Regions from separate parts of the Homo sapiens genome. Here region 2 is reported to be linked to region 1. Evidence: microRNA targets listed by miRTarBase, many of them from high-throughput screens and not tested one by one. Region 1 holds a microRNA gene; the other region holds the end of a gene's coding sequence.
What was found. Region 1 holds the annotated microRNA hsa-miR-223-5p (CGUGUAUUUGACAAGCUGAGUU, at 10,937-10,958, shown strand). A microRNA usually pairs through its seed, bases 2 to 8, with sites in the 3' UTR of a target mRNA and lowers its output. Matches are read on the target gene's strand: a 7mer-m8 pairs with bases 2 to 8, a 7mer-A1 pairs with bases 2 to 7 and ends in A, and an 8mer does both.

Region 1 (15,544 bases):
ATAAAATAAAATAACTACCCTCATGGAGCTTACACTCTAGTAGGGGACATAAACAATAAACAAAACTATAACATGGTAGAAGCAAAGTCAAAAGGCAAATGACAAACTAGTGGAAATAATTACAATTCTCATTACATACAAAGGAAAAATTTCTCTAACATACAAAGTACACCCAAAATCAATTAAGAAAAAGAAATCAGCAGTCTAATTGAAAACTGGGTATGACAGACATGGTTCCTGCTCTCATGGAGTTTGCAATTGAGTGGAATAAACCCCTTTTTTCTTTAAGGCTACGGGAAACAGCTAGGCAGCAGGGTTTGAGGGGGCCAAAGGATATGGTGAGTCATTGAGTAGCCTCTCTTATGCCATCTTAGCAATAAACTTCTTAATTTTAGAATTTGGAATTCTAAATTCTGACAAAATTATAAATCTCAGCTTTGCCACTTACTAAATATGTGACGTTGAAGGAAGTTGCTTAATTTCTTCATGCTTCAATGCCTACATTTGCGAAATAGAAATGATTCCTATTTTATAAGGTTATTGAGAGTAATAAGTGATATAATAGAGAGTGAGAGTAGGTGGTACATAATAAGTACTCAACAAAAGTGTTTTTCTTCCAATTCCCACTTCCTATTTTATAAGGTTATTGAGAGTAATAAGTGATGTAATAGAGAGTGAGAGTAGGTGGTACATAATAAGTACTCAACAAAAGTGTTTTTCTTCCAATTCCCACTTCCTATTCTGCCTAGAACCGATAATAGAAGGCAGTGTCCCTTCTGATGCCAATATGAAGCTTTTCTGCTTCTTACCTTGCATTATCTGGCCTTTACAGGAGCTCTCAGGATTCCACTTTGTAACCCCATGAGGTATCAATTTTTTAGGGATTGACTGATTCCTGAATCAGTGCCAAATCTAGTTCTAGCAAATGTTTAGCTGTGGTGAAAGCTCAAGGGTCTGTTCTAAATTTTCTTTTTGTTTCCCAAAAGGCACAATTCTTGCCCTTCCTTTACTCAGAAGACAAACTAAGAAGATGAAAATAGTCTGTGTGTGCCAAGTCAATGATATCACGGGCAACTACCCCAGTCTGAATTAGGAAATATCTCTATACTGATATATAGATACATACAGATATATAGATATATTCATTTAATTTTTTATTGTAAATTTATAATTGTATTTGTGGGATACAAAGTGATGTTATGATTTATGAATACAATGTGGAGTAATTAAATTTAATATATCCATTGTCTCAAATACTTATAATTTGTTGAATAATTTGAAATGTACTCTCTTAGCAATTCTGAAACATGCAATATACTATTATTAACTGTATTCACCATGCTGTGCAATAGATCTCAAAAAAACCCTATTCCTTCTGTCTGAAACTTTGTACCCTTTGAAAATTATCTCCCCATTCCACCCACCCCCAAGCCTCTGTAACCGTCATTCTACTCTCCGCTTCTATAACTTTCATTATCTTAGAATCCACCTGTAAGTGAGATTATGTGGCATTTGTCTTCCTGTGCCTGGCTTATTTCACTTCACGTAATCTCCAATTCCATTTATGTTGTTGAAAATGACAGAATTTCCTCTTATTTATTTATTTTTTGAGACAAGGTTTTCCTCTGTTGCCTAGGCTGGAGTGCAGTGGCTATTCACAGGTGACCATAGTGCACTACAGCCTTGAACTCCTGGGCTCAAGTGATCCTCCTGCTTCAGCCTCCCCAGTAGCTGGGACTACAGGTGTGATGTGAATAGTGGGAGTGAGAGACAGACTAGAGTGAGAATATATATTTTAAATAAATACATGTTTGTTCCTTCCAAATATACTATTTACAATAGGCTATTGAAAGTTGATTCCTCATTCATTTCTTCATTGTCCATTTAAAATTTTTCCCAAGGGAGTGTATATTTAGGGCAACTCGAATCTATGCTCCTGAGTTGCAGCTCTCAAGCTTGGCCCAGATAAACTCTTTACTCATTTTAAGAAAAAAACAAACAAACAAAACAAAAACAGCTACTGCTTAGTAAAAACCTTTAGGTGGGCCATTATAGGAAATAGATTAAAATGGTTGATTAGGGTCACTTCAGTTATTTCTGCCATAGATGGAAGGTTCTGAAGGACTCTAAGTGGGAGTGAGGTATGGGTAGTAAGTAGAACCAGTTTGGTTTTCTGTCTTTAAACAACTCCCTGGAACTCCTATTTTATTTACTTCATTTATTTTGTCTTTCTAAGAAGCTAAACAAAAGCTTCAGCTCAGACTTATCTAACAATCATAAATTGGAAATTAATGAGGTTTTCTTGGAAAAAACTGCCCTTAAAGACTGAGATGATAACTGACTTGAATTTGACATTTTCCAGCCAGAGACATATTGTATATTTTTTTGTAGATTGCTCCAAAATTTCTACCTTTCATAAATTGTTGCATGATATTTATATCCTACATCTGCCATTTAATAGGTAATTATAGTATCTCCCTCATAAGGTTGTTGTTAGGATTACATAAACTAACATATGTAAAGGGCTTCAAACAGTGCCTGGCACTTAGTAAGCTCACAATACTTGTTAATTATTGTTATTCCAGTACAAAATGGATCTCCTGATAGGTCGAACCTCTTTGCCAGGTTTCCTCCAGAGCACATTTGGTGTGTTGGATAGGCCTTTGGGCTACTATTATTCTACGATATCTATAGATACTTAAAAATGCTCTCAGGCTTATATTTGCCATTTTGTATCGGTAGTCTCCCTATTCACACAAGCTCACCATATTCTTTCCTATCTCTGCACCTTTACTTGGGTTCTTTCCTCTGCCTGAAATGCCTTTCTCTGATTATTGATCCTGTTATCCTTCAAGGCTCTTTTAAAATTCGGCCTCTTCTGTGAAGTCTCTAATCCAACCAGTTGAAATTAACTTTTTTTTCCTGTTTGTTGCCATAGTCTGGACCCCTAAAATCCTAGGCTTGAATATAGAAGGGCACTGCATCACATATATACACTTTCTGGCTTCTCATGTCTCAAACGCCCAACATAGCATACAAGTCCTTTCTTAGTTTGGCCCCCGGCTTAACTCTTCTATTTGCTTTGTGCTATTTTTTCCTTTGCTCACTCTTTTTCAAGCCATACCAGCCTTTTATCTTCTTGGAATATGCCACATTATTCTCCATCTCAGAACCTTTATACATGTTGCTTCTTCTGCTTGGAATTGCCTTGCACCCATTATCCACTTGGCTCACTACTTTTCATTTTTCCGTCTCACTTTAAAAGTTACTTCCTTAGAGAAGTTTTCTTGACCTATCCAAGTCTGGTGGATTATGTTATCCTGTTACGTGTTCTCCCTGCTCTCTGATCTTCCCCCTTTCTTGACATATTTAAAAAATTTGTTTAATGGCTATTTTCCACCACACGGTATATGTCAAGAAGGCAAGCGTTTTATATGTCTTTTTCACTTCTGCATCTTGAGTACCTTGCACCATGCCTGACACTTAGAACACATTCAACTTGTATTTGTTTTGTGAATAAATTTAATCAGACTTATTGTAGAGATGGAAATTTGGAGGCCCAGAAAGGGAGAGGGATTTGCTCAAGGTCACACAGAGAATTAGTGGCAGAGAAAAGACTGTAGCCCAGATCTCCTGACCCTCAGTACAGTTCTCTTTTCCATACATGCACCTCCACTATTGTACTCATTTTTTGAACATGCTTATGTAGCACTCTGTTTTCTGGACTAGATTGTGAATTCCTAGAGGGTAGGGACCATGTCTTATACCTGTTCTGGTCAATACAGTAGCCACTAGCCACAGATGGCAATTTAACACTAGAAATATGGCAAGTTCAAATTGAGATGTACTGTTTGCATAAAATACATACTACATTTTGAATAATGTAAAATATCTTATTAACAAATACTTACATTGTTTACAGGTTGAAATAACATTGTGGATGTATTGAGCTAAACAAAATATATTATTAAAATTAGTTTCACTTAAAAATTTTTCATGTGGTTATTATAATAATTGTGGCTCGCATTACATTTGTATTAGATTGTTGTATATTTCTGTTCTGTTGTATGTTTATTTTTTCCCCTTTTGCCAAGCATAGAGCTTTGTAGCCAGTAGGTGCTCAACACACCCTTGCTGAATATACTTAAGCTGTAGTTATTGGGTTAATTGCTGCCATTTATCTTGTCAGTGTCACTGTTTTGTGGCAGCCTCACAGTGAAACCTCTGTCCCTAGGCCCAGGTGTACAAAAAGTTCTTTAGTCCTGGCCTGCGGGTGCCCTACACATTGCATCAGCCTTTGTATTTCCTTTCAGAGGAAACCCCAATGCAATCCTATGCATAGCAATCACTAGGGTTGAGGTAGAGTGTGTGGACACAAGCCACTTGCACAGGAAGTGGCCTTAGCTTTGCAATTTTCCCTGGGGCCTCTTCTTGAAAGTCTTCTGAAAGGAGGTGGGGGTGAGTGAACAGGAAGATAAACTCAAAGTGAAGGGTGGGGGCTTCTCAGCTCCTTCATGGAGGTTGGGTAAGCTAAGCAATGTGGGGACATTGGGCTATGAGGTCTCTTTCTTTTGCTTATGCATTGACTCATTCACTTATTCACCTCACAGTTCTGGGATAACTAGTTTATTCCTAGGCCTAAGAAGACAGTAAAGATCAAACATAGTTCCTACTTTGGGCAGTGCTTGGTCTTCTGGGAGAGACTGACACCTAAGTGCTGTGTGGATGTTTTTCAAGAGTAGAGGAGGGCAAGGTGGGAAGCAACTAATTTTGCAGGTGGTTGTCAGAGAAGGCTTTCCAGAGACAGTGAGCATCATTTTTTTCCTCTCTATCCCTTAAGATGTAGCCAAAATCTTATTCTTCTGAGAACCTTTCCAGTTACCATCACCTTCTCATCTTCTGCCCTGGGAGAATCTTATATACGTATCTGACGGCACTTCATGACTTTGTCAAATTACTTATCATATTCTGTAGGGTGACATAGCTCTTGGGGTGCACACCTGTCTTCCATTTCCCTTTAGCCTGAGAATCCTTCAATCTGATGTGAGGACTAAGGCTCAGACAGGCTGTGTGTGATTGTTCAAGGTCACATAATCAATAAGTTACAGAGCTTGGTCTATAACCCAGGGTCTAAGATGCAGGGACTCTGATTCAGTGTTCTTTCCATTCCAGTACTGCGGAAACAAATGAGTGTGTCTGCAGTGTGGGACCCCAGCACTGCCTGCTTGCTCCGCTTGTCAACTATTTTCCCTTCTTTCTCATCTCCCTTCACAAGCACAGGCAAGGCAGAAATCATACAAAATGGGAAAACTTTGTGACTTTTGGTTGCTCTCTGCAGAAGCCTGGACAACAGATCAAAAAGAAGAAGCCCCTTTGTGCTGTTATTGGAAACTTGGCCCTTCCCAGCATACTTTGTGTTTGTGGGCTAAAGAGGAACTCTGAGCACAGTTCCCTTTTCTCGCATTCAGGCCATATGCATAGGTAGTATGATTTTCAGAGCCTTCTGTTTCCTAATGCTCTCTTTTATTGCCCTGTCTTTGGACTCAAAATAGATACCATTAATTACTACTTTAGGTAAACACATTGTCTCCAGAAACCCCTGTTAAAAGGCCAGTAGAGTACCCTAATTGATAGGGAAGAAAAAAACGTGTGTAGCTAAACTTAATCTCTATGGTATGCGTAGGAAGAAGGGGGTCCCATTTTAGCAAAGTGCCCGCAGGACTACCCTACTTCCGCTCCAAGCTTTAGTCAGAAACCAAAAGAAACAAGAACTGAATCTTTCTAGAAGCTAGATCTGGGGTCTTGAGGCCTGAGCCAATAAATTATTCTGGTAGAAGGAAGTTTTCTACAGAGTGATGTTAGTGCAAGTGAATCCCTATTTCAGGCTTTCACAGAGCCTCAGGTCCTGCAACCATGGGGAAGCCCACAGTGAGTAACGAAGAGCCACAAAGGAACCAGGGAATGTTTGAGTTGGAGTGGTCTCCAAGACCATTTAGTCCAACCTCTGTTGATTAAAGGAGAAACTAATGCCCAGGGAGGTAGTAGAGTGGGGACTAGGGCCCAGGGCTCTTGGCTCGCAGAATGTGGTCTTTCTTTTGAGCCTGAGTATATAAGAATGTACATAGCTTGAAAAGATTATTTACCACGGCTTGACTATCACTCAGGGCCATACTTCCACTAGTGTAGACAGAGGACTGTGACTTGGGCACTGCAGTCATTGAAAGCTATCAAAGTATAACCTGAAAGCATTGCCCCTCCCATCCTTCATGCCATCAGAATTCATGGTGGAGGGCACTGCATGATGGGAATTCATCATCTTCCTGGCTGTTAGTGGGGACTTCCAGGAGACTGCAAACATGAGGCATTAAGAAACCATCCACCTTCTTTTCACACCTTTCATGTCCCTCATTAGCCTGAAGGTCACAGTTGAACTTAGGGGTCTGGCACTAATTTTTCTTTCTCAAAGTCAACTACTTTCTTCTCCCTTCCTTGTAGCCAATGTGGGAAAGTAGACGAAAACCTCAACATTTGGAGTTAGACCTGAGTGAAAAATCTGCCTTCTCTATTATTTTCTAGTTTTGTTTCCTTAGACAGGTCACTTTATTTCTGTGTGCCTCAGTTTCCTCACCTATAAATAAGAATAATAATACCATACCAGAGAGTTGTTGAATAAATTAGATAATACACATGAAAGAATATCATAAGTACTCCAATAAATGTGAATTTCCTTATTTATTTCCTTCAGCAAGCCCCAAGATGACAGAATGTGGCTTGTGGTCATAACTGTGCCCCAGAGCCAGCTTCATAGGCATATGACTTGTACAGCTTCACAGGGCTCCATGCTTAGAAGGACCCCACACTTAGTTTAATGTTCTGCTGTCATCATCTTGATATTCTTAATTTTTAAATAAAGGGCCTATCGTTTTCATTTTTTACTGGGCCTTGCAAATTATGTAGCTGGTTCTGTATGCCAGGAGAGAAGTTGGAAGTAAAATGGTATTCCAGGACCAGGAGGCATTCTGGCAGAGTGAAAGAACATGTGATTTGGAGTCCATGGGGATGGGTTTAAATTTCAGCTTTCCACTAATTTGCTTTGTGATACTGAGTATTTCCTTTTATCCCTCAGAGGCTCTGTTTCTCAATTTTGACTACGGGTTTTTTCATTAGATAATGTCTCAGTTCTGGTATTCCAGGTTTCCCTCAATTATTCTGGGAAAACCTCCTTGACCCACAGGCAGAGCCTAGGGCAGCCAGGTGCTTTCTACTCTCTCTCTCTCTGCAGCTTGGAAAGTTAGTGTCTGTTGAAGGTCAGCTGGGAGTTGGTGGAGGCAGGGCAGTGGCCTGCTACTATTGCTGCAGTAGCAGACCCTTTCACAACAGCATTGTTTTGTCATTTTGCATCCAGATTTCCGTTGGCTAACCTCAGTCTTATCTTCCTCATTTCTGTTTCCTGTTGAAGACACCAAGGGCCCTTCAAAACACAGAAGCTTCTTGCTCACGGCAGAAAGCCCAATTCCATCTGGCCCCTGCAGGTTGGCTCAGCACTGGGGAATCAGAGTCCCCTCCATGACCAAGGCACCACTCCACTGACAGGTATGGTATCCATTTGCCCTCTCTTCTTGGATTCTCAAGCTGGGGCAGAGTCCATGGCAGCCAAGGGTGGCTTGGATCTGCCCATCCCATTCTCTTCAGACCCTCCTCAGGGATTAAGGTCAAAGGTGGGAGGAAGAAGGCTTCCATTGGCCTTTTATCCTAGAGGTTCTAATGGAGGGGAAAAGGGGATAGGATATTTTCTATCCAATCAGGATGTTTAGGAGATAGTCACATGGAAGTGGAATGGCCTTTGGACCCAGGAGTCAGGAAACCTGAGTAGCAGTCCTGGTTTTACCATTTACCCAATGTGTATCTTTGGGTAAGTCCTTTCTCCAATCTAGGACACAGTTTTTTCACCCCTTTTGCAAAATAAAAAAGTAAAAAGAGGAAAAGAATGATTAGATAGATGCTGTCTAGAGACCCATGGTTATTAGATTCCTAATTTTCATGATTGTCAGCCCTCTGTCAAGAAAGAAGATGAGAGTAATCTTTGCATATGTAACTGTGGGTGGGGCTGAACACATTCAAGAGGAGAGTGCTGGTGGTAATCCATATAGCACTCTCTGAGAGGCATGACTCAAAGATGAAAGCCTCTTTTCTAGTCCAATCTTTGACTCCTAGAGATTCAAAATTGAAAGACTCTTAGAGACTAGGTACATATGGAAGAAACTGAGGTCCAGAAAGAGGAAGAAAGGGACTTGCCCAAAGTCATACAGAGAATCTGTAGCACAGCTGGGTCTGGGCTCCCAGGTCAGTCCTCTTTTTGCTCTATCCTAGGAGGACTGAGACATCAAGCAGCAGGACCTGTCCTGTAACTGACCCAGGACAGGTCCTGCTCATACTAGAGGCAGTCTGGGATTTTTAGGCATGGTCCTGAGGACTTCTTCTTTTCTTCTATTTTTCTTTCAGGTACTTGGCTCACTCTGAGTGTTCAGAGATTCCTAGACACCTACTTACCCCTAATTCTTCTGGTCTATTCCCTCCAATTCCCTCCATAAAAACTGACCCATCCTTTGCATCAACAATAGTGGCTTGATGACGCTCTTCAGTAGAGGATTTTGCATTTCATATGGGGAAAAATGATGTTATTCTAAGTAATATAACAGACCAAGAGAAGAGCTTTCAAATTCCCTTAATATCATCCCATATAGATATTTATGTCTTCTTTCTATGGGTCTGGTGAACATTTCTCAACTGAATGTGATTTTCTTACATACACTCCATTGGAGAGGCATACCAGTCTAGTTTCAGCTCAACCACTAACTCCTTCCATTAATACTGAAGCAATGTTGTCTATAAGGCTCCACAAATTTCAAAGTACTAATAATTTTTAGCCCCTTTCATGCCTCCTTTCCAGCCTTTCTGGAGGTGAATAAAGTCAGAAAGTGCATTCAAAAGGCTGTGAACACCTCCAGCTTATCTAGGTCTTCTTACTGGAGCTGACAGCCAATGAGTGTAATGATACAAAAAAGGTAACAATCCATTTCTTTTTCTCCTGCCATCCCCAACTCAGACTCTGTTAATCAGCTTGCTTGGCTGGCCTCCAACCATAGGTCCAGGGGCTGAGACAAGGTCCTTTTGAGCTCCTATGTGGGAGGCTCTGGAAAGCTTAGCAACACTTTCCAACAACTTTGCCAGGTAAGTAGGTAAGTCTCCTTGTTCTCATTTCCAGAGAAGACAACTGAAACCCAAAGAAAGACTTGCCCAAGCCATGATTGGCTAGTTGATGGCCAAGACAGCATTAGAACACAAGTTTGTCGATTCTGTCATGCCATATTTGGTGACCATGACTGCTGCTTTTGCTGCTGGGTGGATTAGGCTGAATTGGGTAGGTAGAAAAGGAAGTGAGGGAGTGAAAGAGCTTTAGTTTTGAGATGACTGCCAGAACTTAAATTGAAGGAGTATGTTACCTTCTTAACATTCAATTAAAAGAATAGAGCAAGAAAAGACACTGATTGTTTTCTTGCTGAAAGACAAGGCTGAATCCCTCTGTCTTACCTGGGCTGGGACAGGGCTTTCCGGCCTCATGGGGGCAGTTTACCATTTCTGGTAACCTTGTGATGTTTGCCACTTTTCATGACAATATTTAATGTAGACCAGCTACCTGCTCACAGATCAACTGCCACAGCTGGTAAGGGCAGTAATTTGACACCAGCAACCTGGGATTTTTAGCAACAGGATCTGATTGTTGCCAAGGGAATTCTCCCAGAAGTTTCAGACCTGACCCTGCTCCTGGCAGCTTCCTTATTGCCCTGGTGGCTTGTGGGTTCAGTGATCCCAAATGTTGCATTACAAAGCTATTGCCTGTTTTTGCCCTCTTTGTTGATGTGTCTTCCCTTTCCCAGAGGGATATACAGAGAAGGGAGGCAAAATAACCAATGAGGAAAGCTGTATAAGGCATACTGCTGAACTGTAAAAAATTTATTGTATAAACTTTACAAGTCTCCTCCCCAACAGGAGCCTTTGTTATCTCATTTATAACCTAAGTGAGTGAGACTAGATGATCTTTAAGGGCACTTTAATAGCTGCCATTCTTGAGTCCCTATGGGACAAGAGGATCATGTTAGGCAAGGCTGAGACCACAAGAAATCAATGTCACACCTGTCCAGATCCTGCTAAATCAATTGCCAATAGCTCTTTCTTTCATTTTGGTCACACAACCACTACTTTTTGAGCATTTGTTATGTATTGAATACTGAACCAAAGGCTTTACATGCATTATCTCCTGTCATTCTCACAATAACCTTATGAGGTAGGTATTATACTTACATACATTTTGTGGGTGTAGAAAACTTGAGCTCAGAGAGGTGAAATGATGTATCCAAGGTTGCCTAACTAGCTAATGGAAGAACTAGGATTTAAGCTCATGTTTAACCTCAAAGCCTATGTGCATAACCACAACACTGAAAACACAGCTTGGGAGAATTGAGAAGAGGGAGCAAGGATGCTGACTCTAGGGTCTGGTACTTTCCTCAAGTCAGGGAGGCAGGATGATGACCAAATTTTCCCCTCTCTGCTGCATAGAGGAACCCACTGAAGCTTGGGACCCCTAGAAATGCCATAGCTACAGGACTCAGGCCTGATGAGCTTCCAGCTGAGCACTGGGTGTCACTCGGGCTTTACCTGCTTATCTTCAGGATCTCTCTTCTGGTTAGGAACCCTATGCCTATTTTGCTCACTTCCCTATTCTGGTGCTTTGGTTGGTCCTTTGAGCAAGATCCCCGGGGCTAAGGGTGTGACTTCATCATTCCTTTCTCTCTCTTTCCCTCTAGGGTCACATCTCCCAGGAAGATCTCACTTCCCCACAGAAGCTCTTGGCCTGGCCTCCTGCAGTGCCACGCTCCGTGTATTTGACAAGCTGAGTTGGACACTCCATGTGGTAGAGTGTCAGTTTGTCAAATACCCCAAGTGCGGCACATGCTTACCAGCTCTAGGCCAGGGCAGATGGGATATGACGAATGGACTGCCAGCTGGATACAAGGATGCTCACCAAGCACCAAGTTCTCACAAGTTATTTTATGTGACTTTGCAGGAACTGAGGCATTATATCTGAGGACACCAGGGGAAAAGTGTGGCATCTCAGGGAAATACAGCCCTGGGCTGTGTCTACACACACCATGAGAGTGCTGATGGGGGCGCAATAGTCTTGAAAATGTATAAAGTGTCCAGGAATGGAAGTGCTCTTTGATTCATTATTATTTTCTTCCTTCATATTCCCCTCCCAGAGTCTCCTATCTAGGACATCAGCATTCTCACACAAGCCTAATGGCTTATCTGAGTAAGCAGGGCTTAGAAATTCACTTTCTTGATACTCAGTCTTGCCTTCTAAACACTCCTTGATCTTGCCTACCTCTCCCCTTTTCCACATGTCTTTTCCTGTAGGAACACTTTCTCCATTTATTCCTGCCTATCCAATTCTTCCCTATATTTCCTGGACCAGCTAAAGTCCAGTGTTTCCAGAGACTTTTGAAAGTCAACTTACACTTTTTCCTTCTTCATTCACAAAGCTCTTCTTCCCTGGGCCCTGGTATGTATGCCTTTCTCTCCTACTGTCTAATAGCACCTCGTAAATTGTCAATGAACTTTTCTAAGGGGTATTCTTGAATTCCCAACTAGATTGTGAGCTTCTGGAAGACAAGGCTATGTCTTTGATTGTTGTCTCCCCTACCACAGCCCAGTACTTTAGTTACAGAAAATAATAAATATTTACTGATTGATTGACTTTCCTCTTGTCCACTAGCTTTAGGTTTGGGGGCCAAATTCTACCCTGGATTTTGAAAAATTCAAACTGTGAACACCACAATGTTATAGAGCATATGAGGTAGTAGCCAGCATGAAGGATGTTTTCTTCCTGAGAAACAGTGTCAAGGGCTGGAGGAAGAGGGCAAAATAGCAGACTCAGAGGGCAAATAAATTTTGGTATTACTTGGTCACACAAGGTTATACAGGTGTTTTCTTGTAGGATTTTTCAGAGCCTTTAATAGTCTAATGTTGCATTGAGAATCTCAAAGAGGAAACCATAGAATGAGGCATTTGCCATACCTATCTGATCATGAATTTTCTTTTCCCCCACAGCCTTCTCCTGTGTCAATGTCCAATGAAGCACGATTTGGGAAACTGTCCTAGAGAAACTTTATACCTTCCCGCTCTTCTGGAGATCTTTTCCTCTTTTCATTCATCTACTTTCCCCAACCAGCCATCTGCCTAAGAAAGGTCACATGTTATCATCTCATTTTTGTTTAGCCTCTGCAGCTGTGGACTATCTTTATTACATAGGAATTCTTTACTAGCTTGTCCTGTATTTAAAAATATTCTAAGTTTTGAGGCAAAGAAGATCCAGATGCTGCAATAAATATATGCACTGAGGAGTTCACAGGCCTGACTTTTGGTCTCCTTTCTACCACTAACTGTGTTTTTGTTCCTCTCTGAGCTTCATTTTCTCATCTCCAATACGGAAGTATTAGAATCAGTGATCTCTAGGCTCTTTAAGATTAATGACTTTGAGATATCCCTGGGAGTCCTTAGCTCTTATGGAGCAGCGTCCCTGGATGTGTGGCTCCTTTTACCAGTGAAAATGCAACCAGGATTCTCTTCCCAACACCTAAAACTCACTTTTTCTATGGGTAGTAGGGAAAGATAATGGGTATTTTCAAAGGCTGTAGGGTCTGGACGCAGAGTTGTTTCATGAAGGAAGTTGGGGTTTCCACTGGGTGGAGGCCCTATTTCAGAGGCTTGTAAGCACGATGGGGAAGAAAGAGTTGTTCCTTTCGCCAACTAGGAGAAGCTAGCGTCTGGAATGAGGAAAATGTTGAGGTTTTTACCCTGGATTTGGCATGTTGGGTGGCGGTGAAGTGGAGGACTCCTTTTTGTTACTTTCGTGTACTATTTTGACTTCTGTAATCATTGCAAAAGGGGAGCAGCTCCTTGTGAAACATGAGCTGACCTAGGGGCTGCATGGGAACCAGAAATAGCAACATGGCAGCTTCCTTGAAGAGTGCAGAAGTTGATTTGACATTAATTACATCGAGAAAATAAAACTGTGTCAACCTGGGTCAGAACAGGTCCTCACAGCGGAGCCTGATTTAAAGGTGTAGGAACTTATGTACACATACAAACTCTCTCTCTCTCTCTCTGTCGTGCGCACACACACACACACACACACACACACACTCCTAGCCCTATTCCTCCTTGAAGAGAAAGGCTTTCTTGCTCTTATCCCCACCTCACATTGTAAGAAGGGGCCAGGAGCTAAAGAAGATAACATATGAAAAATGCAACTACCCCCAGGATTTTAAGATTCAAAGAAGTGGAAATCCTTGGGAGTGGTGCATCCATACTTGGGAAAGAAGGAAATCCCTTCATCTCTGCATTCATAGTCCCCTGAGACAGAAAGACTTTTTCTTTCTTAGGCTTCCAGTTGATGTGGGAAGAATCATCCAGGTGGACCTGGCAGGATGACAGGTTGGGTAATGGAAGCCAGGGGAGTACTGTTTAATCAAGTATTCACTGTTCTCCAGCTGGGCTTACCAGTGGAGTGAAGTAGGAGTGGCATGTGTGGGAAGGGGAAAGACCAAAAAAGCAAAAGTGACATCCATATTCTCGGGCCCCAGCCATCTTAACTAGTCTCACTTTAATTACTTTTAGTAGGTCCTACCATACTGTGAGAGAAGACCAACACAACTGAAGTTGCTGTTATGATTAGATATTTATTGAGCACCAGGAGAGAGTCAGAACATTAGACTTATAGTGGAGGAGCAGAACTGAACCCTGGCCTGTGAAATAACAATTTCAATTAAAAGCTGTCTGGCCCTGAAGAAAGAGAAATGATCCTGGATATAGCTGGTCCTCTGAGCTGGCAGAGCTGAGCCTCCCTCGGGTCTTCTGGTGGCAAGATGCCAAAGTTGAATAGTGTCTGTAGGCATGATGACCAAGTCCTAGTGCTATGGGCATCTTCCCTCTGGTATTTAGAGAGGAGTACCAGAAGCCCCCGGCAGAGATACTAGAAGGGCCCAGAGCCAAATCCAGCAGCTGGCTTACTTGAGATGCATCTGGCAAATTCCAGGGCAAAGCCAGTGACTCCCAGCGGCTCCAGTGTTGGTAGGCGGACACTTTGGGCTATCCAGGAAGAGAGGTAGCAGGGAAGAAGGCCATGCAGAAGGCAAGGACTGACTAGGCAATTATGTCAGCAGATCCTGGCCTAATGGGGCATTTTTAACAGACACTTTTGCCCTCAGTGGCCAGAAACTCATAATCCAGAGGAACTGTGTCCAGCAGGCGGGCGTAGTTGCCATTGATCTGGGCGATGATCTGGTACTCCTGTCCTATGCAGGGCTCATCAGAGTAGTTGTTGCCCAGATTCTGGGAAGTTGGCTCATCACTGGAGCAGCCACTTGCGAAGATGGCCACCCTCATGGTTTCTCCAGAGTCGTTGGCCTCTCTGGCATGTGCCCTATGGCCCAAGAGCCCACCACCCATAAGAAGGGACTTGGGGCTGTGGTCCTGGTTTCCCACCCTTCTGCCTCAATTCTTGCCAATTAATTATCAGGATCCTACCACCCAGGGATTCTGGAAGCAGAAGGCAGATGGATCTAAATTATCCTTTGTGTTCAGAGGGCCAAAACAACCTCAGAAGGTGCCTGAGAGAGGGAAGGCAGCTATGTCCTGACCCTGAAGGCCTCCGGCCTTAGGATTGGGTCTGTGCCACACCCCCCTTCCTCCACATTTCCTGCCAGTAATCAAAATTGAGGGCAGGGACGGGGTCAAAAATGGAAGAGGAGAGACTTTCTTACCTGGCTGCTTCGTAGACATGCTCTAGAAAAAAAGGAGGAATCATGTCAGAAGTTTTCATGGCAAGTGGACAAAGGTCAATCATGGATCCTGGGTACCAGTCAAAAGATGAGGGAAGGGTACAGAGGAGGGGATTTTAATATGTCTTAGCTTTCCAACAACTGGGAGGTATTGGGGAGGTGAATTGAAACACAGAGATGCAAATTTATCAGGTAAAAGAAGGGGAAGCACATTTGGTCACTATCCTTTTTGTCATCTTGGACTCAGGATATTGGGCTGGAGCAGTTTCTCGGTATGGGTTGGGGGAGGGCACTAGAACTGGACTTGCTCTTTACCCAGGAATCTCCCCCAAGGATCCCCAGAGAGTCCTTGTGGGAAACTTGACTGTCAGGCCACATACCAGGAAGAAGGGACTGGATTAGCCTGATGCTGATGGCCGTGACCCAAGACATTCCCAAATGCACTCACCCCCACTATATACCCAGGAAAAACCATGGTATTGGTTACCATTGCCCCCTAGTGTCTGTGGAGGAGGAGTGTCCTATATTCCGTACAGGCTCAAAGGCTTAGGTTGGTGCAAAGACAGATATTTCTTTGTACTGCCCTCTAGGTGCTTATAATTTTTCAGGGATGCAACTGGAAATGCAAGCATTAAATGACAACA
Region 2 (15,278 bases), not on the chromosome of region 1:
ATTCCTCTCTTTGTACTCTTTCTCTTGCTCAGCTGGCTGACATTTATGGAAAATAGAACCTACGTTGAAATATTGGGGGCAGGTTCCCCCATTACATATCTTCAAAAGGTTTAATTTGAGGTTGGCTAGGATTATATTTTACATTATTGTTAGGTGGGTAAACAAGGCTCCCCTCTGCTCAAGTCCTTGAAGGCCCAGGACCCCCCAGTTTCATCCTCTTACTATGGGCATGACATTCAGTTGTGACGTGAAGAGCAGTGTGGACCCGGTGGAAACACCCAACCATGAAAGTTAAAAGCTGGAGCCTTTTAGACACATGGAGAGCACATCACAGAGGCAACGCCCCTCACAGGTTGGAGGGTTTGGAGTGCAGGGGAGGGATTTGCAGTAGTTGGGACTTGGCCAGGAGGAGGGGCTGTTAGGATGGCCCCTAAGTGTTTTGAGGGAGGAGAGGCCCACTCAAGACTGTGGGGCCCATGGACAAAATACAAAGGCCAGGTCCTCACTCCCTGCTTAGTCTCTCTGGCACCAGAGCCAGGGGCTGTTGGGCACCCATTCTAGCCTTGAGGAGGTGAGGGTCCAGGCTCTGTGTGTGGGGTGCAGCAGGTGGGGTAGTTATTGTCCACACGTGTTCCGTCCTTTTAGGCTGCCTCTTTCTGATCTTTGTACAGACAGAGCAGACTTTTGATGGGGCTTTTTGGTCTATGCCTGTTGGTGCATCCAGGTTGCTGGTGCCTTCAGCTCCAAGTCTGGGATGACAAGGCTAAAAGAAAACCCAAGGAGCTGCTGCCATGTTGCTTCTCCGGTCCTGAGGCCCCAGCTAGTGCGACTTCTCTCCTGCGTCATCTTATATTTGTTGTTTTGTATGTAACATCCAGGGTTTTTGTTGAACTTAGGAGGGATGGGAAGAACTACATGACTTCTGGGAAGCAGAGGTCCACACACTTGCTTTTATTGGTGCAGGGAACCCTGGTCTACCTAAGTGATTTATAAGCCCCTTACGAGGAGGGGCCCGGCCCGCTGTGCCCTTCTCTGTATCCTACAGTTCTGGGCTTGAGCCTCAATCCAGTCCACCGTGCACCACGGCCAGAGCACTTGCTGCCCTGTGGGGATGGCCGAGATGCTTCCACCTGGCCCTTGTGACGCAGACAGGTTTGTGGTTTTGGTGGAAGGGAATGCACCATGCGGAACAGGGGTGGGGCTCCCGGGATGGGTGGCTGTGAACTGGGACTTGAAGACAAGCGGCTCTCAGAGGGAGGTGAAATTGAACCTCAAACTCTGTGAGTCAGTGGTAGAGAGAAAGAGGATGCTTGGAACAGTAGGTGTCACCTCTCCCGGGCCAAGCCTCACTGTACTCTGCCCGTGTGTGGGACAGGCGGCCAGGCTGTTTCACACATGGACACACACCATTTCTTACTCCCCTACCCTCAGCATCTCAGGCCTCACCTGCCCTGCATAAAACCTTAGTCTCTTCTCCTGGGCCCTGCTGCTCGTGGCTCTGAGCACAGGGCCTGAGCATAGGGCCTGTCCTCAAGGAGGAGCATGTGGATGGCCACCTGCACCACAATGTTCTTGCAGGCATGAGTTTGCCAGAGGGGTTGCCTTCTTGAAAGTGCATAGATTTGTCATCCAAGGAGACCCCTTGGGAAGAGCCCGTATCATGGAAAGCAGGCAGAGCACTGTGCCTCGGACACTGCCACACTTCCATCTGCGGCCCCATGGATCCACAGTCCCTCCCACTTAGAATGAGCAATCATGAGGCAGATGCCTTCAGTGAGGTTTAGCTTTTAGTCCAGGGAGAGCCCACTCTGTCCCAGGCCCTTGGTTAGTCCAAACCTGCGGCAGCAGCCAGACCAGATGGACTCTACAGGTAGTCTCTCCTCATCACGGGAAGAGGAGCTCTGTGCCACTCACCCTCCGGCGTCTTCTCTTGAACTTTGTGTTGTTGATCCCCACACCCCGGGCAGCATAACTGCCACCTCCCCAGATGCCCCCGCACTGTTCCTATCATATCCTGTGCACATCCAGTCTCACGGTGTTCTCCATGTAGCTGTATGTAAAATTCAGTCTGTATCTCTCCCACTCGCTTCATGGCTACTTCAGGGCAGGGACTTTATCCACTCACCTGTATCCCTGAAGTCACTGAGTAAGGATTTGCAGTGTCTATGAGGTGCAGAGAGGCCGGGTGCTGGCCAGGAACCAAGATCCCATTTCTATAAAACAAGCACAACCATAGCCACATGTACGTGTGAGTGTGCAAGAAAGGACTTGACAGACATGCACACCCAGCCCCGGTGGTCACAGCTGGGAAGAAGTATTACAAGTGTCATTTTATTTTTTTATTTTTGTGGGTACATATTAGGTATATATATTTATGGGTTACATGAGATTTTGATACAGGCATACAATGCATAATAATCACGTCAGGGTAAACAGGGTTTACAGGTATAGTTTTTAAAAGTCATCTTATTTCAAAAGTCCTTCCAGACCTTACTGTGTCAGTGGGTAATAAATTATGCTGATAACTGATGACGGATGGGTTCCGTCACTGAGCAGCATGTGTTGAGTGCTGGCCAGGATGCCAGCTCCCAGGAAGACAGTCCTCATGCTGGGGCATCCCGGCTCCAGGGTGCATTAACCCTGCTGCCTGGAGCATGTGCCAGAGCCTGTGCTAGGGCCTTCTCGTTGTCTAGGCAGCCATGGGCTCTGCTGGGTTGAGAGATGTGATGCCTGAGCATTGGCCTCCTCTCCAAGCTGCCTGAATGTTGCCTCCATGGTGGAAGTAATTTGTCTTCGAGTCCTTTCCAGAACTGTCAACCAGCATTCCCCATCTCCAAAGCAAGTCATAATGGGCCCTGCCTGCTCACTGAAATGCAGAAGCCAGACTGACCCCTGGAGCCTGGAGGTCTCTGCTCTGAGGAGCGCCTGTTTATGGCATTGCTTCTGCCTGGGCTCCCGGTCCTACTGGCTTTCACTGGCAAAGCAAAGATGTGAGCCTCCCCAGCCCAAAGAGCAGGCTGCTGTGGATGCCACCAACTCCACAGGACCAAGCCTCACAGAGCAAGCCCTTCCCTCTGCTCCCCGAGACGCCTGTCTTACAGAGTCGTGTGTGTCAAGAACAAGAGGTTTCATATAAAAATTAATGAAACAAGATTTTTTTTCTGACATGAGGAAAATGCATTATTCAGAGTTTCCAAATGCCACCAGTCTCTTCACTTAAAATTTTTACTTTAGACTAAGCTCCTTACGTTTCTGCTTGATTAATTCAGTGGACTTTCATTTTATTTTGCAGTAGCCCAACTTTAGGGTAAAGTTTACACACTGCCACAAATGTGTCATGCCACAGGCTGGCAGGTGTGGGCAGGCGGATCCCACAGGGTCCCTGGGAGACCTGAGGAAGAGAGCTGCACAGCCCCCATGGGAGGCTGGGCATATTGGTGAGCCTTGAGGCTCCATGTGCCTACAAATAGCACTGACTGTGCGGGACCTCACAGAAGGGAAGCAGCCATCCTCTGATCCCACTCCTTCCTCTACTCATCTCCCCTCATCAGCTGCTAACCAAAAACGCAGGGAAATGCTCACACGCCCGACTGAGTGACACATTCAGGGGCCTTGAATGCTGGCTAGAAGACACTGTGGTGGGGCTTGCGCATAGAAAAGAAGAAAGCAGGAAAGGTCTCTCTTAGTTGTAATTAACCTTAGAAAAAAACGAGCCTCCGTCTTACAGTTGAGAGAAGGAAATATGGGAGAATGGGCAAAGCTTAAGAAGTCCCCAGTCCAGCCTGCTGCCTCCCAGAAGGCTGAGGCACTCGCCAGCCCTCCAAGCCCTAAACCCTCCACTGCCATTGATTCTCTCTGCTGCAGCTGCCTGCTAGCACCTTTTAATCTCTGAGTTCTTTGGTTTGGTGCCTGTGGAGCTGTAAGGAGAGTGCTAGAGAGTTAATTTTAGGGGCTGCACTTGAGCTTGCCTGATTTCAGCTCAGCCTGCAGGTCTGGAATGCTCCTGTGCACCCTGGGTGCTTCGGCGTCACGCAGATGGAACAGCAGTGCCAGGTGTATGACGGCCGAGGGCTCAGGCGGGGCTCGGTTGTGTGTCCCCTCTAACTGTCCCCTCTCCCGCAGAGGAGGCCGAGCGTGGCAGCCTCGGCGCGGGCTCGCTGTGCAGGCGGAGGCGGGCGCTGGGCGCGCTGCGTGATGAAGGACCCCGGCGGCGTGCACACCTGGACATCGGCCTCCCGCGCGACTTCCGCCCCGTATCATCCATCATCGATGTGGACCTGGTCCCCGAGACGCACCGGCGAGTGCGGCTGCACCGGCACGGCTGCGAGAAGCCGCTGGGCTTCTACATCCGCGATGGCGCCAGCGTGCGCGTGACCCCGCACGGGCTGGAGAAGGTGCCCGGCATCTTCATCTCGCGCATGGTACCCGGGGGCCTGGCGGAGAGCACCGGGCTGCTGGCTGTGAATGACGAGGTCCTGGAGGTGAACGGCATTGAGGTGGCCGGGAAGACGCTGGACCAGGTCACGGACATGATGATCGCCAACAGCCACAACCTCATCGTCACCGTCAAGCCCGCCAACCAGCGCAACAACGTGGTGCGCGGCGGCCGCGCGTTGGGCAGCTCGGGACCGCCCTCGGACGGCACCGCGGGCTTCGTGGGTCCCCCCGCCCCGCGCGTCCTGCAGAACTTCCACCCCGACGAGGCGGAGAGCGATGAGGACAACGACGTCGTCATCGAGGGCACACTGGAGCCTGCACGTCCCCCCCAGACCCCGGGCGCGCCCGCAGGCAGCCTCTCCCGGGTCAATGGCGCGGGCCTGGCGCAGCGGCTGCAGCGGGACCTGGCCCTGGACGGCGGCCTCCAGCGGCTGCTCAGCTCCCTGCGGGCCGACCCCCGTCACAGCCTGGCGCTGCCGCCAGGCGGCGTGGAGGAGCACGGGCCCGCGGTCACGCTCTAGACTCCCGAGAGGCCCCCAAATCCTAGCTCCAGTTCCCCGGTAAGGACAGGGACAGGACCTGCAGACTGCATCCGCTCATTTTTTGTTGTTTTTGTGACCACAAAAACAACGCTGCTCTTTGTTTCAACTTCCGGATATAAAAACACAAGTATTGCCTATTTTTATAGAATTTCGCCACAGAACTTAAAATGAACGCCTGTAGAGACACTCTATACCAGGCCTGAGTGCAGGTCTTGGCGCCTTTGCAAAGTGATAGAAAAGATCTGACCAAGTGCAAAAAAATGCTTTTTAAAATTTTTACAAATACTTTGTTTTTAAAGTGAAGCTTTAAAATTACTTTTTTAAAATAGTCAAATTCATGTTTTTAAGTAAGTTGGCCCATGCAACATATCTCAGCATTCTTGCTGTGCTCTCTGCTGACTTGCAGGCGAGGCCGACTGTGCTGATGTACGTGACAAGAGGCTGGTTTTTAATAACGAATGCAGCCAGGTGCAGTGGCTCACGTCTGTAATCCCAGCACTTTGGGAGGCCTACGTGGGCTGATCACGAGGTCAGGAGGTCGAGACCAGCATGGCCAACATGGTGAAACCCTGTCTCTACTAAAAATATAAAAATTAGCCAGGTGTGGTGGCAGGCGCCTGTAATCCCAGCTACCTTGGGAGGCTGAGGCAGGAGAATCGCTTGAACCCGGGAGGCAGAGGTTGCAGTGAGCTGAGATCGCACCACTGCACTCCAGCCTGGGTGACAGAGCAAGACTCTGTCTCGGGAAAAAAAAAAAATACACCCAAACCTGTCCATGTACAACCATGGAGATGAATTCCAGATTTTCACACTGTTCATAGTCATAATTCGGTTGGGACAGGAGAGCTCCCACCAGCACACTTATGGCACCCGCAGCTGTGGAATTGTTCCGGGGCTTTTTTTTGTTTGTTTTGAGACATAGTGTCTTGTTCTGTCATCCAAGCTGGAGGGATCTCAGCTCACTGCAACCTCCGCCTCCTGGGTTCAAGCAATTCTCCTGCCTCAGCCTCCCAAGGAGCTGGGACAGGCACATGCCACCATACCCAGCTAATTTTTGTATTTTTAGTAGAGATGGGATTTCACCACGTTGGTCAGGCTGGTCTTGAACTCCTGACCTCAGGTGATACGGTCCCCCCTCAGCCTCCAAAAATGCTAGGATTATAGACGTGAGCCACAGCACCAGACCAGGGGCTATTTTTGTGACCCACATAGGTGGCCCATTCAGCCTCAAGGGGAAATCCAGGGTAGGAAGCAGCAGCTCTGCTGGACTGGGCTCAGCAGTCCCATTTGGGATGTAAGCCTCTATTGCCTCTAAGATGACCCTTTTCCTGTGGGTTGACTGACTCTGAGGGCGATTTCGGAAATGTTTTCAGCAGAAATGAAGGATAAGCATCGCACATGTCCAGCAATGTCTTTGAGAATGCAGTCATTTGCACGTGAGTTCTCATCTTTGTTTTCTGAAACAGACGTTTCTTTTAGTAAGTCACAATACATGCTAATTTTCATTTCTAGAATGGTCACTGGCAGTTCTCACTTTTAACTATAAGAAGTCACGTGGAACTTAGTGATTTTTAACAAATACTAAATTCATCCTCACTTTATGTTGATCTTCCAGCAACGTTTATATATTTAGTAATTTTAAAAATTCCTATTTGATACAATTAAATTTTATATAATGTGTTTTGCTTGAATAAAATGTTACATTTATACTTTGAGAACTCTGACCAAATCTTTCATACAGATACAGGTAAAGAAATATTTTTCTAGGTTGTCGGAGCTGCGTACCTCCCGCTGCTTCTCCTTGTGGTCCAGCACCACCTGCTGGTCAGTGGCAGAACTGTCCTGACTTCGTGAACATGGAACTGCTAAGAGGGAAAACTGCATCTCAGCATTTTCATTTTTTCTGAATATTAAGTGAAAAGCAAGTTCTATTTTTAAGAAATAGCTTTTGCTGAGGAGTTGTGAATTCCTGCACCTGTGTTTGATGTTATTTGTATGCAATGGATTGCTGGCCCTTTGTTCCTAAGCAAGAGAAGACCAAAGATGCTTCCCCATGACCTCTCCGGTGAGGATCCGCACCCCCCGGACTTGCTCTCTGATGAAGGGCATGTCGTTCAGTGCCCCAGCAGTCAGAAGCAGTTTTTGTGGAACTAAAACTAATAATGTTACCCTCACAAAGGAAATGTTCTTTTACTAAGTTATTGCTGATTCTTGAATGTCTGTTATATAACTGGGTCGGCTATCAAGAAGGAAGGTTATATTTCTTATCACATTTTAAGTTGTTAAGCAAATGTGAGTTTTTTTTTAAGAAATGAGGCTTTCACTGAGATTTGTGTGCTATTCATAATTTTAGGAATTACTGCTTAGAACAGCTGCTTGGGTGTATTTTTCTACACAGGTCTGTACTTCTGCCACTTTCTCCTTTTAAAAAAACAAAACTATGCATATTATGTATTAAAGTTTTCTTGGTTTTATATATCAGAGAATAAAAACTTTTTTGACTTTTGAGTAAACAAAATGCATGAATATTTCACCTGTGTTCTAAGTGGAAGAGAATACCAGAGATAAAGTAATCCCTCAAAGAGAATGACAGATTTATCAAGTGCTTATCATGTACCATCTTTCACGGAATCCGCACATACTCTCTGAGGGACGCAGATGAGAAAATGGGCCCAAGCTCATCAGATAGACAGATGACAGTCCAGAACCCTCTCTCGAAGTCTTTTTGAAAAAGCTTTTCTGAATATTTATACAGCACACAGTCCTTCCTAAATGTGCCCTGGTTGGCACGGTTTTCATTAACACTGTCGTTCTGGCAGCCATCAAGAGTCAAATTACAATTACAAATTCAGTTACTCAGCAAATTACAGATGTGATCACATTGAGCACCAGCATCCTGGAAGCAGCACAGGTACCCTACTAGGAGCTTCACAAGTACTCGCCACCTGCTGAGTCCCCACAGCAACTCTGGACTGTCGGCAGCTGGACAGTTGACCCCCACAGTCTGATGAGGCAGGAGTCAAGTGCCAACACTGGGTACACTCTCCAAAACTAATGTCCGCTTTCAGCAGGATGAGATACGAGGCTTAAGTGTAAGCAGAGGCCACATGTGCCCCTGGCTGCCAGCCGGGTGTGGCCTCAGGCTTGGGTTTCCCTGACCTGATAGTCCACATCATATGGCAAATTTATTCACAATTTGGTGAGGGTATTTAATATTTTATGGTTTCACATAAAATGATCACAGCGAGTGAGAGTTTTGTGGCAAGGTGCAAAAGTATCTAAAAAATGCCATGATTGTTGTGAAATCTATATTAGCGAAAATCTAAATTTTCCAACAGAAGGACATGTAAGTTACCTGCACCTCTGTGGAATGTTTTTAAAGGATGCAAGTATGAACTAAGTGTGGTAGGGTCAACTTTTGATCCTTGCATTTTAAAAGTTGGCACTAGTATGAAGTTTTTTATGGCAGCACTAAAACTCACACGGTCTGAATAGTTTATTAAAATGGTGTAAGGCTGCACTAATGGCCAGTTCCCAAATGCACTAAGATACTTAATGTGTACCATTCCTACTGAAAGTATGAACCTACTTAGCTGATTTCCAGCTTGCCCATTTCTGGAAAGGTAAGCTGCTCAGCGTGAGCTCAAGGACCTCCTGTTTCAAACAAACCGGAGGGTGAACCCTCGTCCCCTCGAACAGCTTGTTTAAAGAGCACCTGCTGGTCAGGCACAGTGGTGCATACCTGTATTCCCAGCACTTTGGGAGGCCAAGGCGGGCAGATTGCCTGAAGTCAGGAGTTCGAGACCAGCCTGGCCAAGATGGCGAAACGCCAGCTCTACTAAAAATACAAAAAAATAGCTGGGCATGGTGGCGTGCACCTGTAATCCCAGCTACTCTGGAGGCTGGGGCAGGTGAATCGCTTGAACCCGGGAGGCTGAAGTTGCAGTTAGCCAAGATCACACCACTGCACTCCAGCCTGGGCAGCAGAGCAAACTCCATCTCAAAAAAACAAAACAAATAAAAGAGTGCCTGGATTACCCCAGAGGCTCTGATTTAAGGAACTTGGGTGGAGTTTGAGAATTTTCATTTCTAACAAGTTCCCAGTAGATGCTGATGCTGCTGGTGCAGGAATCACATTTGAGAACCATTGGCTAATCCCCCAAGCTTATAGGACTTGCCTATAAACTTGGACTTGATGACCGAGACCCTATCCAACAAGCACATAGGATTTCCCTCTAGGATGTTATGTGCTGGTATCAATATTGTAATTTCACATCAGGTAACCTGCAAAAGTATTTCCTAAGTGCACAAATACTATTTTTTGAATTATCTCCCACCACCACCATTCTGGCGCCACATCTATACACCTAGTCTTCTTAACGTTCTCCTTTATGCTTTGAACATCTCCTATTTATTCCTGAAGACACTCCAAATCAATATACAAATTCTTTTTTCCCTCTTACCTTTCCTCATTTATCTTGTGTTTTATTCTCCTTTATCCTCATGGGGAAAAAAAAAACAACTTGAGGGTATTGAGAATGTTTTCAATACTGAGCCATGTTCCCAAGGAGAGACATAACTCTATAACAGTAATAAAAAGCAAACATGATTCATCATTGATCTTGCAACCCAGAAAATGAGTGCCATTTTCCAAATTTGCTTTCCCAGGGAGCTTTGAAGATAAACACATTATTTCTTGACTTGAGTCCCCTTGCTCTCAAGACAAAGTGCCAGGCAAGAGCTCTTTTACAAGAATTGTACTTCCAGTAGACTGTCAGGTGAGCTATTAAGCAACATGGCCGTGATGACAGAAAAGTCTGTCTTACCACTTCAGAGCCAAATTACACACCCTATATGAAACCCATCTGAGGCCAGACTGCAGAGACCTAAACGTATAGATGAGAGGATCAGAGTATGGAACCTCCTTTCTCATAATAAGACTGCAGCATAAGAAGGGCACAGTGCCATGTGATGGGACTGCAGAATGCCAGATGTATGACAGGATCAGAATCCAAAATTGACTTCCACAAAGCCAGACCACAGGGAGCACCACACACGAATGAGGATAATATCCAAAATCAACTTCGAATTAATTAGACTCCAAAGACCAGCACACACTGATGAGAGAATCAGAGATGGAAAACCACCTCCACAGAACTGGGCCACAGAGATTACCAGTCATAAAAAGAGAACTGCACAGAACCAGACCGCAGAAGGCACCACATACATGGATGACAGGATCTGAGCCCCAAATCTACTTTCAGTAACTGGGCTGCAGATCCAGAACCAGGCCACAGAGGGCACCACACCAACTAATAAGAGTACCTGAGTCCCAAATCTACTTCTGTGTAATGGGTGGTAACAGGCAACAGGCGAAACACTGAAACCCCGACTTCATGCCCTCTGCTTGCCACGACGGTTTTGCATTTGTTTCCCATGCCAGCATAAGCTCTTTATTCAGAGGCTGTCATATTCTCTCTGATGTTCAGTTACTAACGATTACTAACGATCCTACTTAGTGTGGATGAGTAAACCAATGTTTCCTTGGAGTTTATGCTTCAGAAACAGGCAACAAACAAAAGATAACACATAATTCATTTATCAATAAATGACAAGAAAAACAGAGCCAGAAGGAGGATATTGTAAATTTTTACCATTTACCATTACTTTTCAGATGAGAAAATGAAGGCACACTAATATTTCTAATATCACACAAATACTTTTCAGAGCCATAATTTGCACCTGTATGTTCTGGCTTAACTGTTTTTCTCACCCCATCTATCAGTTTGTAGAAATGCAGGCTGGGTGCAGTGGTTCATGCCTGTAATCTTATCACTTTGGGAGGCCAAGGTGGATCTCTTGAGCTCAGGGGTTCAAGACCAGCCTGGGCAACACAGATCTTGTCTCTACAAAAAAATGTTTTTATAATTAGCCAAGTACATTCTCTTTGCCTAAAATAAAAAAAGTAGTCCCAGCTACTCAGGTGGCTGAGGTGGGAAGATCGCTTGATCCTAGGAGGTCAAGGCTGCAGTGAGTTATGACTGCACCACTGCACTCCAGCCTGGGTGACAGAGTGAGACCCTGTCTCAAAAAAATAAATAAATAAAAATGCAATGTTTATCCACACAGTCTGGCTAAGGAAAGACACCATCTACCACCTTTGGTTTATTCGGGAATGCATCTTCACTGTCTATTCTAGCCAGCAATAGGCAGACTCTGCCATCCAGTGTAAGTGACTTCATTCCTCGGTCAAACATTGGAATTAGGCCAGGCGCAGTGGCTTATGCCTGTAATCCCAGCACTTTGGGAGGCTGAGGCAGCTGGATCACCTGAGGTTGAGAGTTCGAGACCAGCCTGACCAACATGGAGAAACCCCGTCTCTACTAAAAATACAAAACTAGCCGGGCGTGGTGGCACATGCCTGTAATCCCAGCACTTTGGGAGGCCGAGGCGGGCGGATCACAAGGTCTGGAGATGGAGACCATCCTGGCTAACACAGTGAAACCCCGTCTCTACTAAAAATACAAAAAAAATTAGCTGGGCATGGTGGTGTGCGCCTGTAGTCCCAGCTACTCGGGAGGCTGAGGCAGGAGAATGGCATGAACCTGGGAGGTGGAGCTTGCAGTGAGCTGAGATCGCACCACTGCACTCCAGCCTGGGCAACAGAGCGACACTCCGTCTCAAAAAAACAAACAAAAATTTGGAATTAAAAGTCTGCTTATATGTAAAGGGTCACTCAAGTTACTGTTGAAAATATGGAAGGGAATATTCCCTGCTCAGCACCACTGACCCATAGAAAGACAATCAGTGAGAAACGGGCAATCCTTTCTCTGAGCATCCTGTTTCTTCACTTTCTTGGAATCATGATTTTTGTATTTGAAAGTATTTTGGACAAAGAATGTCTTAGGTGAATGCTACTACAATAGTAATCTAAGCAGAAATCTTACAGTCATCCTTACTAGTAACCATTTTTTTATTTGTATAAATCCGTGGGGTACTAGTTTTGGATACCCTATTCAGCATGCATACACTAACGATAGCTGATGATCTTAAAAAAAAAAAAAAAAAAAAGGTCCGTGCATAATTGGATATATGCACACAACGTGTGCTGGTCAAGTGAGGGCTTTTAGGGTATCATCACCCAAATAATATACATTGTACTCCTTAAGTTCTCATCACCCACCCACCTCCTACCCTCTCACCCTTCCAAGTCTCCAATGTCTGTCATTCCACTCTCTACATCCATGTGCACACATTTTTTAGCTACCACTCATGAGTGAGAACACATGATCTTTGTCTTTTGGGATCTGACCTGTTTAAGATACCGACCTCCAATCTATGCATGTTGTCACTAAAGACATTTTTATTCTTTCTTAGGACTGGATAGTATTCCACTGTGTATATATTTATCCCACATTTTCTTTATCCAGTCATCCCCTGATGGACACTCAGGCTAATTTCTCTATCATTGCTATTGTGAATAGTACTGCGATAAACATAAGAGTGCATGTATCTTTTTGATATATTGATTTCTTTTCCTTTAGGTAGATACACAGTAGGAAGATTGCTGATCAAATGGTAGTTCTATTTTTAGTTCTTTGAGAAATCTCCACAGTTTTCCATACAGGTTGTACTAATTTACATTCCCACAGTGTATAAGAGTTCCCTTTTCTCTGCATCCTTGCCGACATCTGTTTTGGGACTTTTTAAATAACAGCCATTCTAACTAGGGTAGGATGAGATATCTTGTGGTTTAATTTGCATTTCTCTGATGATTAGTGATGTTGAGCATTTTCACATATACCTGTTGGCCATATGTATGTCTTCTTTGGAAAAATGTCTATTCATGTCCTTTGCCCACTTTTTAATAAGGTTATCATGAAAATTATGCATGGACTTTTTTTTTTTTTTTTTTTTAGCTCATCAGCTATTATTAGTGTTAGTGTATTTTATGTGTGGCCCAAGACAATTCTTCTTCCACTGTGGCCCAGAGAAGCCAAAAAAGTTGGACACTGTAGCATGAGTGTTTTGCACACTTAGAAACATGCATCACCTGCACCCTTTTGTCCAGACAATTTCTGGACAATTCGTACAAATGATGTGACTTACAACGAACCCCCGATTTTCTTCCGGGGTTCTGTAGCCTCCTGTGTGCCTATGGGACCAATCCCCCAAACCACACGCAGGAGTCAGGCTCAGGCAAGCATCCTGGTGGACAGCACCTCACACATCATCACAGCTCACTGCTGGAGGAGTCAGGAACATCCCTCCTGACTGCCCTAGGAGAGGGTGCTCACAACTCACACAGGCTTCCTGCAGCCTTTGCCTTGTGCCTTTTCCCCTTACAGTGTCCCCTTAGGAAGACTGTAGCCATGAGCAGAATGACTTCTGAGGCCTGTGAGTTCTTTCTGAAACTCACTAAACCTGAGGGTGGTCTTGGAGATGATCTTTCTCTCTCTCTCACATACAAACATACATGTGCACACACGCATTTACATCTCTATTGATTCTTCCTTTCCTTGTTTGTAAGAAACCTGCTCCCATTATCCTTAATATACTCATGTGCTGATCAGTCCCCTGAATGTAACCACCAACCTCCCGTCACCACCACCACCCTCTTCCCCACACAGGTGCCCTCCCCCATCTCCAGGCCCGATGCCCCTTCACAGCTACCTCTCAGCCTCCCAGCCCCACTCACACTGACAGGGGCCATTCTCACCTTCCCCAGGGGACCCTTCCTCACCACCCTGCTTGGCTCCACAGCCAACTCCAAGCCCCACCAGTTCTTCCTCTGCCAGTTGGAGCCCTCTTCGCTCTGCCTCAGTTTAGGGCTGAGAGGGAAGGAAGAGGATGAGGAGAGGAGAAAGGACGGCTTCTGAAGCTTCTGCACCTGTACTGCTGCACTGTCTTACCACATTTATTTATTTACTAGAATTATTTCAAGAACCTTTAAACTTACCAGACTCTGATCCCAGGTCCTGAACTTAACCCTGAAGTCTAATTCTGTGCCCCTAAACTCTTCAATGCTCCTCAAATGAGCTGTGCCTCTCATATGTCTATGTCTCAAAGGTATTTTGTGCTGTTGCTTGGCCTGAAAGGGACTGCTCTGCACTTCCCCTGCAGCTTCCCTTCACACTTGAGGTCGGCTGTGCTGCCTCCCTCTGTGAAGCCTTCTCTGCTCCTCCTGGAACATCTGCCTTCCCCCTTGCTCCTGTGTATTGATGGAGCACAGGATCATGGCTTTAGAGCTGGGAGCTCTTTGAGGGGTAACTCCATTTCATTCATGTTTTGTCCCCAGCATTGGGCAGGATCTGATGGACATATAGAGACTAAGCCACTGATGGTATCAGAACTAGTTTCAGGAAAGAGGAAGGAGAAATGATGGCTCACCATCCCATCTCTGCAGGCATAATGGCGGTCACTGGTCAGCCATGGGACCAAGGTAATCAGAAAACTCTATTAAAACTTGCTACATGTGGTGTTAAGGCTTTTTTCTTCAACAATTATTAAATATGAGTCTACACACAGGAAAAATAATACTTGTTTGCTCTCTCCTGGCCCCTTGCCTGCCCCAAAGCAGTCTCCTCACCTCAGGGTGCTGGTGCAGGGCAGCATCACCTCAGTGAACCACTCCTGTGGAGTACACACCCCAACACTTTCTGCTTAGCAAATGCAAGTGGTAGAGAAGAAAAAGCAAACTTCAAGAACATTGTTATGAGGCCAGAGGGGAGGAGTTGTCCCTGTCCCACACACTTTTTGTTAATTCCTTGCCCTTATGTTTCAAAAGTAACAAAAACATTAATTGCCTAGAACTTTGCTGTTGCAGTGATCAACAACCAATCAGATGACCCACTTTTTTTGAACTTTGATACTTGCACAATCTAGCAGCACCTAATTTCAACAATGACAGCAACAACTTTATATACAATAAATTGGGTAAATAGGGTTAATCCCTTTTTCCAACTGGTAGCACTGTTAAATGGGACACCACTTATATTTTTAGAGGACTAAATGCACATTCATTTTAGAAAATTTTTAAAATATAAAAACACAACAAAATCACTCCTAGTCTCACCACCCACATAAATACTTCATACTTGGGTCCTCCTGGCACCCCATTCATTCCAAATATTAATTAAAAGCAAATCAGTACTCACTTCTGGGTGTAAGCACTCTAGAAATATATTTTGGGCTCTTAGTTGACCTGTTTACCGAGATTTCTGGGCACAATCATTCTTTTGCACACATACACTGTCCTGTTTACCTATGATTTGAAAACGCCTTATGACCATAATATGT

Region 2: miRTarBase lists PARD6G as a target of hsa-miR-223-5p. Seed matches in the 3' UTR shown: 7mer-m8 at 5,736-5,742.

What each region holds. Positions count from the first base shown.
Region 1 is chrX:66,007,959-66,023,502 of GRCh38, forward strand. It overlaps MIR223 (microRNA 223), which reads left to right and starts at 10,912; the gene lies at 10,912-11,021. It overlaps VSIG4 (V-set and immunoglobulin domain containing 4), which reads right to left. Exons shown (of 8, transcript NM_007268.3): 7 at 14,883-14,904; 8 at 13,780-14,542. The coding sequence ends at 14,305. MIR223HG (MIR223 host gene) reads left to right here and starts at 7,503. Exons shown (of 3, transcript NR_170299.1): 1 at 7,503-7,593; 2 at 9,107-9,231; 3 at 10,866-12,468. RefSeq lists an enhancer at 5,292-5,361.
Region 2 is chr18:80,149,451-80,164,728 of GRCh38, reverse strand. PARD6G (par-6 family cell polarity regulator gamma) reads left to right here. Exons shown (of 3, transcript NM_032510.4): 3 at 4,123-7,497. The coding sequence ends at 4,958. The region is part of intron 1 of PARD6G-AS1 (PARD6G antisense RNA 1); the gene reads right to left. Among named protein-coding and RNA genes, the nearest start is that of PARD6G-AS1, 9.2 kb to the right of the region's middle. RefSeq lists a silencer at 4,910-4,979.